Linked DNA regions of Homo sapiens. The protein of the gene in region 2 interacts with the protein of the main gene of each other region in a biochemical or structural test. Each region holds a gene or a part of one and is shown on either strand. Other genes may lie near its edges.

The links. The genes of interacting proteins can lie anywhere in the genome.
Region 1: the proteins of PSMA5 (region 2) and XBP1 form a complex in vitro, tested with the Homo sapiens proteins (one study listed by IntAct).

What each region holds. Positions count from the first base shown.
Region 1 is NC_000022.11:28,794,060-28,797,569, forward strand, and holds the end of XBP1 (X-box-binding protein 1), read right to left. Parts: intron 3,147-3,510; coding exon 3,018-3,146; intron 2,134-3,017; coding exon 2,095-2,133; coding exon of another isoform or gene 2,069-2,094; coding exon 1,988-2,068; intron 1,674-1,987; coding exon 1,116-1,673; 3' UTR 501-1,115; downstream 1-500. UniProt on the Homo sapiens protein: Functions as a transcription factor during endoplasmic reticulum (ER) stress by regulating the unfolded protein response (UPR).
Region 2 is NC_000001.11:109,415,474-109,420,981, forward strand, and holds part of PSMA5 (proteasome subunit alpha type-5), read right to left. Parts: intron 1-5,508. UniProt on the Homo sapiens protein: Component of the 20S core proteasome complex involved in the proteolytic degradation of most intracellular proteins. This complex plays numerous essential roles within the cell by associating with different regulatory particles.

The sequences.
Region 1 (3,510 bases), on a different chromosome or scaffold from region 2:
CGTCTCTTTGAATCTTAACCTTTAGAGATACCATTATCCAACTTTACAGATGAGGAAATAAGTGATTATATATAACCCCTGGGTTACCCAGCTTACCAGTGGCAGAGTTGAAAATAGGGAGTTTCAGTCTAGAAAATGCTCTTAATTCCCATAATAAGGGCAAGAGAATCTCGATATGTGATGGTGTGTCCTTGTTTAACATTTATAAGATGGTGTAGCAAATAGTGGTTAGGGTTCTAGCTCTTCCACTTACTAGCTGTGATATTGGTCAGTTAGGCTCAAGAATCTGTCTCAGAAAGACAGTAACTGCTCAAATTATAGCTTATATCACTTATGGCAGTCCAGAATTAAAGCAGGCAGTAATTAAGGTGGAAAAGCCTTCAGTCACTTTAAAAAGCGTTAGGCTCACTTCAGTTGGATTAATTCCTACCACAGCACACAGATAAACATCTGGAGAGAAAACAAGACTTACGGCCCTAGAAGAAATCAAACAAGGATGCTGCATTGTACCTTTTAATTGCATGGGTAGTTTTAAATAAATGGAGAAAGCACCTTTCAGAAGCTACACTAGCAGGAAAAAATTCCATCAAGCATTTACATAGTAAATTTCTATAATTTCACAAAAGATTCTTGATCTTACTTGAAGTATACATGAGGGAAAGAGCCCCCTCAGCAGGTGTTCCCGTTGCTTACAGAAGCAAACTAAAGGACCTAAAACTGGAGGCAAGCCAGGATGCCAAAAAGGGGGAAGAGAAATGATAAAGAACCATTCATAAATTCCATGTCTACTTCAAGACATTTGTCTAATGACCCTTACATAATAAGTATTTTAGGGAAAACTACCACCCTTTTAAGATAAAAGTACAATCTTAAAAGCTGTAGTTCTCAATTATAGTAATATTTCTTACTTCCAGTAATATGTCTCAATACCTTGGACTGCTGGATGTCAAAAGACAATACCTGGGGGTCATCTATGAGATCTGAACAAATAGAGGAATTCTCTAGGACTGTATACTCTCTATTTTGGCTTTTTGAATGAAGTACAGACAGGCTTCTCTGCTATCCTCCAGGCAGTGTAATAGTCAAGGAAAAGGGCAACAGTATTGGATCATTCCTTAGACACTAATCAGCTGGGGAAAGAGTTCATTGGCAAAAGTGTCCTCCCAAGAATGGTTTACACCAAGCAGAGAGGACATGTCACTGAATGGGGAAAGGGAACCCCCGTATCCACAGTCACTGTAAGCATCCAGTAGGCAGGAAGATGGCTTTGGGCAGTGGCTGGATGAAAGCAGATTTGAGATACCCAGCTCCGGAACGAGGTCATCTTCTACAGGTTCTTCCTTCACTGAGACAATGAATTCAGGGTGATCATTCTCTGAGGGGCTGAGAGGTGCTTCCTCGATTTTCACTACCACATTAGCTTGGCTCTCTGTCTCAGAGGGTATCTCTAAGACTAGGGGCTTGGTATATATGTGGTCAAAACGAATTAGTTCATTAATGGCTTCCAGCTTGGCTGATGACGTCCCCACTGACAGAGAAAGGGAGGCTGGTAAGGAACTGGGTCCTTCTGGGTAGACCTCTGGGAGCTCCTCCAGGCTGGCAGGCTCTGGGGAAGGGCATTTGAAGAACATGACTGGGTCCAAGTTGTCCAGAATGCCCAACAGGATATCAGACTGTAAGAGGCAAAAATTAAATGAAGTACAACTGTCAGAATACAATGGAAAATCTAACTGGAACACTTTGTACTGGGTTCCATAATGTAAATTAGTCATTATGTGATAAGATGACCTCGGGACCCACCAGACCCATTTATCTACACTTCACTCCATGTTCTATATTACCTGGAACTAGGAAGGTAGTTGATGTTCACCTCCAACCCCACCAAAAACTAACTTCAACCCTCATCTGTCTAGTTAGGGATGTCAAGCATCAAACAGATGGAATTAACTGGTTATATAGCTCTTTAATAAGTCAGAATGATCCCTACCTCTGAATCTGAAGAGTCAATACCGCCAGAATCCATGGGGAGATGTTCTGGAGGGGTGACAACTGGGCCTGCACCTGCTGCAGAGGTGCACGTAGTCTGAGTGCTGCGGACTCAGCAGACCCGGCCACTGGCCTCACTTCATTCCCCTGGGAGGAAAGACCAAAGTGAATAAACAGCTTCAAGTGCCCAAGGAAATGCTTGCTAGACAGCTGTGATTCTCAACTTTAAAGAATTACTTTTCAAAAAGATTCTAGGGTTAAATTGCTATAGAACTTTATTATCTAACAACATTATTATTATTGAGAAGAGCAAGATAAGATATTTGCCAGTTCTGCTTGAATCTTTGCCTGGAGGAGGAAAAATGTTTCATTGTGCAGGAAATGTATAAGGAAGCCTTACCTCCCTTTTCTCATCTCTTGAGGACTTAAAAGTGGAAATAACAATGGTTAGGGAAAGATTTCAGCTGTAAAGAATGGTTTTCTAGTTTTCTTGAAATTTGTCCTGAACATTACCTTCACAGAGTAAAACTGTGCTACTGTCAATCTTAGACCATTTGATTGTTGTCACTGAATTTGCCATAATCTGTAGACTAAAACTCACATACCACCCTTCTCTTACCACAGAGGTATCACTATTACAAAGAATCCTTTCCCTACTCATTCATATTCATCAAAGAACTACTTTAATTTTAGTAGCGTTCAAAATCTGGTTTGAGTGGCTCTCTTACTTTGGTTCTCCTTAATGATTGCATGGTAATCTTGTTGGCTACTGCATTTGTTAGTACTTGTTCTTAGGGAGCCATGTAACTTGTTTTCATTATTAGATCTTAGTACTGTTCACTACACACTTAAAAAATGAGTGTCAAGTGCCTTTAGGGGAAGAACACTCTGCCTGCATGAAAATGTCTTAAAACTGAAGGAAAATTTCAAGAACGCTCTTGATCAGAAGTCCAGACTGTAAACATAATCGCTGGGTCATGTCACTTGGAACCAGTACTCACATGAGGCACCAAATAAAGGAGATGATTTACCTTGGCTTCCGCCTCCTCTTCAGCAACCAGGGCATCCATCCCCAAGCGCTGTCTTAACTCCTGGTTCTCAACTACAAGGCCATGAGTTTTCTCTCGTAAAAGCTGATTTTCTAGCAAAAGTTTTTGGTTCTGGAAGAAAGTTCATAAGAGGCTATTAAAACATCTAATTATTTCAGTTAAGAATCTACCTGATTCAGTATAATTGGTTTCCTTTCCTTCTTGAACTTTTGGAAAACTCTATGCTTGTGGTGTTCATAGTAGGTTTTAAAAAGCTAGGCCATAATTATGGAAAAGCAAGCTACTTAATAAGTGCCACTTCATGGGGTCAAGAATAACACACTGCTTCCAACTACTAATACTGACTTCAGCAAAGGGTGACTTGTGGCTTTAATGTAGATATAATTTTTTTTTTAAACTATCTTGGCCAGGCTCGGTGGCTCACACTTGTAATCCTAACACTTTGGGAGGCCAAGGCAGGTGGATCACCTGAGGT
Region 2 (5,508 bases):
TCTTATAGGCAGAGAGAAGGAGCACCCTAACATACTGTAAGTAATTAATATACTATTCCTGTCAATAGCAAGAACATTGATTTACAGAATTTTGTGATTCTAAAAAGTTCTTTTTTCTCCCTTAAATTTTTTTAAAATTTTTAATGTTTTCTTTATAATTTACCCATGTAATTCCCAGAACCCCAAAAGAGTAAGTTCAACAAAGTCTTTCAAACACTGGAAAAATCCACTCTCTAATGCCAATATTTGGAGGACGGAGGATTCAAAAGTTCTAAACATAGTGGGCAAGAAAGTAATAAAACTCTTAATGTCTTCTCTGGACCTGGCCTCTTTTCACCTCTGCCATCTACCTTGGTCTGTCCCAAGAGGTGATGATATTCCCCAACCTACCTGACCTCCAAAAAAGTAATAAAGGAAGGTAGGGAGGGACGAAAAGAACCACCACCATCATCACCACCAACAACGTAAAACTATTAATTATTTAAGGTCGCTAGAAGTCCACAATATACCTGGAATTCATCTCTATCTCTACGTAACTCCCAGTCATCTACTCCTCTATGCCCATTTCCTGCAAAATGAGGATGACAATAATAATAAGAAGGGTAAACACATTATATATTATAAAATGCTTAAAATGGTGCCTGCCAAATATGAACAAATGTTATTCATATTCCATGCCTAGATACTTCAATAGCCTCTCTCATCTTTAATCTCTCTCAATGTATCTCTAATGTTATAACCTGACTGATCTAATAAAATGCTATTATCATTATATTTCTTCTCTCAAGAATTAACATCACCCTATACTGCCTATAATATATCCAAATAAACTTCCAGAGCCTTCATATCCTGATGCCACTTTTCCCTTCCAACTTCACTACTCGTTATTCTCCAACAAAATCCCTCAGGTATAGCCCAGCCCACTGGCTCAAGCCACGTTATCTCCTACCCTTGCACCCCTCTGCTCATGCTGTCTCCCCTGGAATACATTCTTCCTTCCCCCAATCCAAATTCCACTCATCAAAGCCTTCCATGACTATGCTTTCTGCTTTGAATTCCATTATATTTAGTTATTTCTACAAAGTAATCACTGCCAAGTGTGAGCACTGCAAAGAGTTCCAAAGAATCCCACGAATCTTTATGTATAACTTGCTTAACATGTCTGCAGACTGAATGATCATTTCACACGCATATATATTATTTTTCAAATGTGTTGAGTTGTGACTTTATTTAGAAGTGTTATTAAATGTACACCAGCTTTTTGTCATGTATTTTCTTAATCAGTGGATACCTGCATAACTACAGGAGATGAACTGTCAAAAAATTTTATGTAAAAAAATGAGTACTCAGGTTGGGCATGGTGGCTCATGCCTGTAATCCCAGCACTTTGGGAGGCTGAGGTGGGCAGATTGCATGAGTCCAGGAGTTCAAGACCAGCCTGGGCAACATGGTGAAACCCTGTTTCTATAAAAAATACAATAATTAGCCAGGCTTGGTGGCGTATGCCTGTACTCCCAGCTACGCGGAAGGCTGAAACGGTAGGACTGCTTGAGCCCGGGAGGCAGAGGTTGTAGTGAGCCAAGATCACGCCATTGCATTCCAGCCTGGACAACAGAGTGAGACCCCATCTCAAAAAATAAATAAATAAAAATGAATGCTCATATTTCTAGTTAAAGGTGCAGACTAAAGACATAACATTAGTTCCACGCCTTCCTTAAGTCTATTGATGTAAGATTAAAGGACTTCTAAAAAGGCATAAATCCACTATAACAGAGAGTGGGAGAAGACACAGCAACAAAACTTTGAAGCTAAAAAGAAGATAGGTTAGTGATACCTGGGTAATCCAAATCCTAAACCAGCCGTAAAGAAAGTAAAGAAACAACCTGATTTTTATCACAGGACCTCAAAAAAGGAAATGGTGGCAACAAGGACCTCTGGAAATGGAAATGAACAAGGAGCTAAAAATTGCAAGGTGGTTCAATGTTTAAGAAACAGATTCCCGGATCCCCTCCCCTATGCTGTAAAGCTAGACGACTGCACCTCCCCCACTCCCGTGGAAGACTCCAGGCTTATTCTCTGGAGACCGTAAAATAGAGCGTCTTTGGATTGGGGACACCAAGCACAGTCTAAGGCAGGAATAATGTACTGAAAACGGGATAAATATGTAAAAATTTCCAAACCAAATGTTAAGAACCTCAGCCTTCTTTCCCTACTCAGCTCTCAGAAGCCAGCAGCCAGAAATACCCTCCCGGAATGAAATGAGAAGAGGCAGTTTTCTCCTGAGCAATGTTTTTCAAACTTTTTGACCAAAAGCCACAGTAAGGAATACATTTGATTTCATAACTAAAACCCACAAATAAATATAAATACATAACAGAAACAAAATTTCAGGAAAAAAACCACTCATCACTACTATGGGCAAGGCATTTTGATATCTACTGCTCTGTTTCACTTAAAAAAGAAATGTGGGCCAGGAGTGGTGGCTCATGCCTATAATCACAACACTTTGGGAGGCTGAGGCAGGAAGATCACTTGAGCCCAGGAGTTTGAGACCAGCCTGGGCAACATGGCAAAACTTTACCTCCACAAAAAATAAAAAAAAATAACTGGGTGTGGTGGCATGTGCCTGTAGCTGGGGGCTGAGGTGGGAGGATCACTTGAGCCTGGGAGGTTGAGGCTGCAGTGAGCTGTGATCGTACCACTGCACTCCAGTCTAGGTGACAGAGTGACATTCTGTCTCAAAAGAAATGCTCCTCATGACCACTAAATTTATTTTATTATCTCCTAATAGGTCTAGACCTGCAGTTTGAAAAACATAGCTCTAAACAATCTGACCAGTTCAAAAGGAAAAAAAAATATTTTAGACAGGGTCTCACTCTGTTGCCCACGATGGAGTGCAGTGGCACAATCACGTCTCATGGAGCCCCAACCTCCCAGGCTCACGAGATCTTCCCACCTAAGCCTGCAAAATAGCTAAGACTACAGGTGTACACTACTACACTCAACTAATTTTTTAAATTTTTTGTGAAGACAAAGTCTCACTATGTTGCTCAGGCTGGTCTTGAACTTCTAGACTCAAGCAGTCCTCCTGCCTCAGCGTCCCAAAGTGCTAGGATTACAGGTGTGAGCCTTGCCCAGCCTAATTTTTTAAATTTTTTCTAGACACGGGCTATGTTGCCCAGGCTAGTCTTGAACTCCTAGGCTCAAGTGATTCTCCTCCCTCAGCCTCCCAAAGTACTGAGATTATAGGGATGAGCAACAATGTCCACAAGGAAAAAAATTTTCAAGAAAAATTAGAAAATTGTTGAAGAAAAACAAGACATTTCATCCATAAAACAAGAACGGGATGCTAATAAGAAGAAAAGAAACAAAAGAAGTTGAAAATTAAAAATTATTTCTGGCCAAACACGGTGGCTCATGCCTATAATCCCAGCAATTTGGGAGGGTGAGGCGGGCAGATCACCTGAGGTCAGGAGCTCAAGACTAGCCTGACCAACATGGACAAACCCCGTCTCTACTAAAAATGCAAAATTAGCCAGCGTGGTGGCGCATGCCTGTAATCCCAGCTACTCAGGAGGCTGAGGCAGGAGAATCGCTTGAACACGGGAGGCGGAGGTTGCAGTGAGCCGAGATCACGCCATTGCACTCCAGCCTGGGCAACAAGAGCAAAACTCCACCTCAAAATAAATAAATAAATAAATAGTTTCTACAATACTACTGGAAAATGGGTTCTACCAAATTGAGCAAATAAATCAAAAAAGATGACATGGGGCCTTACACAAGAGGGAGTTAAAGGGAATGCCTAGAATGATCTCACAGAAAATGAAGTCCACAGGTACACAGGAGGCCCAGAGAACAACCAGTCCAGACTGGAGCAGATTAGAAGGCTCCAAGATTTCATTAAGAATCCTTAATAGGGCACTGTGGCTCATACCTGTAATTCCAACACTTTGGGAGGCCTAGGTGGGCGGATCACTTGAGCTCAGGAGCTCGAGACCAGCCTGTGCAACACAGCGAAACCCCGTCTCTACAAAAAATACAAAAACTTAGGCCAGGCGCGGTGGCTCACATCTGTAATCCCAGCACTCTGGGAGGCAGAGGCAGGTGGATCACAGGGTCAGGAGTTCGAGACCAGCCTGACCGATATGGTGAAACACCATCTCTACTAAAAATACAAAAATTAGGTGTGGTGGCACGCGCCTGTAATCCCAGCTATTCAGGAGGCTGAGGCAGGAGAATTGCTTGAACCTGGGAGGCAGAGGTTGCAGTGGGCTGAGATAGCGCCACTGCACTCCAGCCTGGGTGAGAGAGTGAGACTCCGTCTCAAAAAAAAAAAAAAAAAAAAAAAAAACAAGCCGCGCATGGTTGTGCATAGCTGTAGTCCCGGCTACTTTGGGGGCTGAGGCGGGAGGATCACTTGAGCCTGGTAGGTTGAGGCTGCAGTGACCTGAGATGCGCCACTGCATTCTAGCCTGGGTGACAGAGCAAGACTCTGTCTCAAAAAAAAAAAAAAAAAGGAATCCTTAATAGGACACTTAATTTGCCTGAATGTTTTGAGAGGATACATGTAACCTGGAGAGACTTTGGAATGCATTATTGATCATCCTAAATTAAGCAAATATTTTTAAAAAGAGAATTATTAACTCCAAGAAAAACAATGTTGTGCAGAAACAGAAAAATAATTATAAAATGCAAAATGGCTCAGCTGTGAAAAGCATTTAGTTATACTAATGTAACTATTGACTAATGATCTTACAAAATTATGATATTCATGATATATATGGAGAGGGTCACCCTATCCCCACCTCAGAAGACAATTGTGTGTGGTGGGGAGTAGGGGTGTGGGGTTAGGGCAGAAATCTTCATCTTTCATAATGAAAAGTCCATGGATAATGCCTAATAAAAAAAAACCATACATCTGTGTTATAGAGATATGGAGGTACAGTCCTAGAACATTACCAGCTGAAACAATTTAAAGTGTTGCCTCTGAAAAGCTGAACCTAGATGATGCAGGCCTCAAGAATTGCTATTTTTGTTACAAGGTTTATAGAACTACTTTGCCTTCTAACTCTGAAACTACATGCATGTATACCTTAAAAATCAAACAAATATATAATCAGAAACCATTGCCAGAAAACTTAATTTAGCACTTAGTTGTTCTCTAATTGTTTTATGTATAGTATACTGATCTTGAATCCCTAACTGAACAGAGTAGGACAGAATTCATATATACTTTTTATCTAGAAGAGTGATTCTCAATTGGGGGCCCTTTTGTCCCCACCAGACATTTGGCAAAGTCTGGAGACATTTTTGATGGTCACAACTGAAAGAGTGCTACTGGCACCTAATGGGTAGTACCCAGGAATTGATAAACATGCTAAAATGTACAAGATGGCCCTCCACAACAAAGAATTATCCAGTCCACGCCAGGTGTGGTGGCTCACACCTGTAAATCCCAACACTTTGAGAGGCTGAGGCAGGAGGATCACTTGAGCCCAGGAGTTTGAG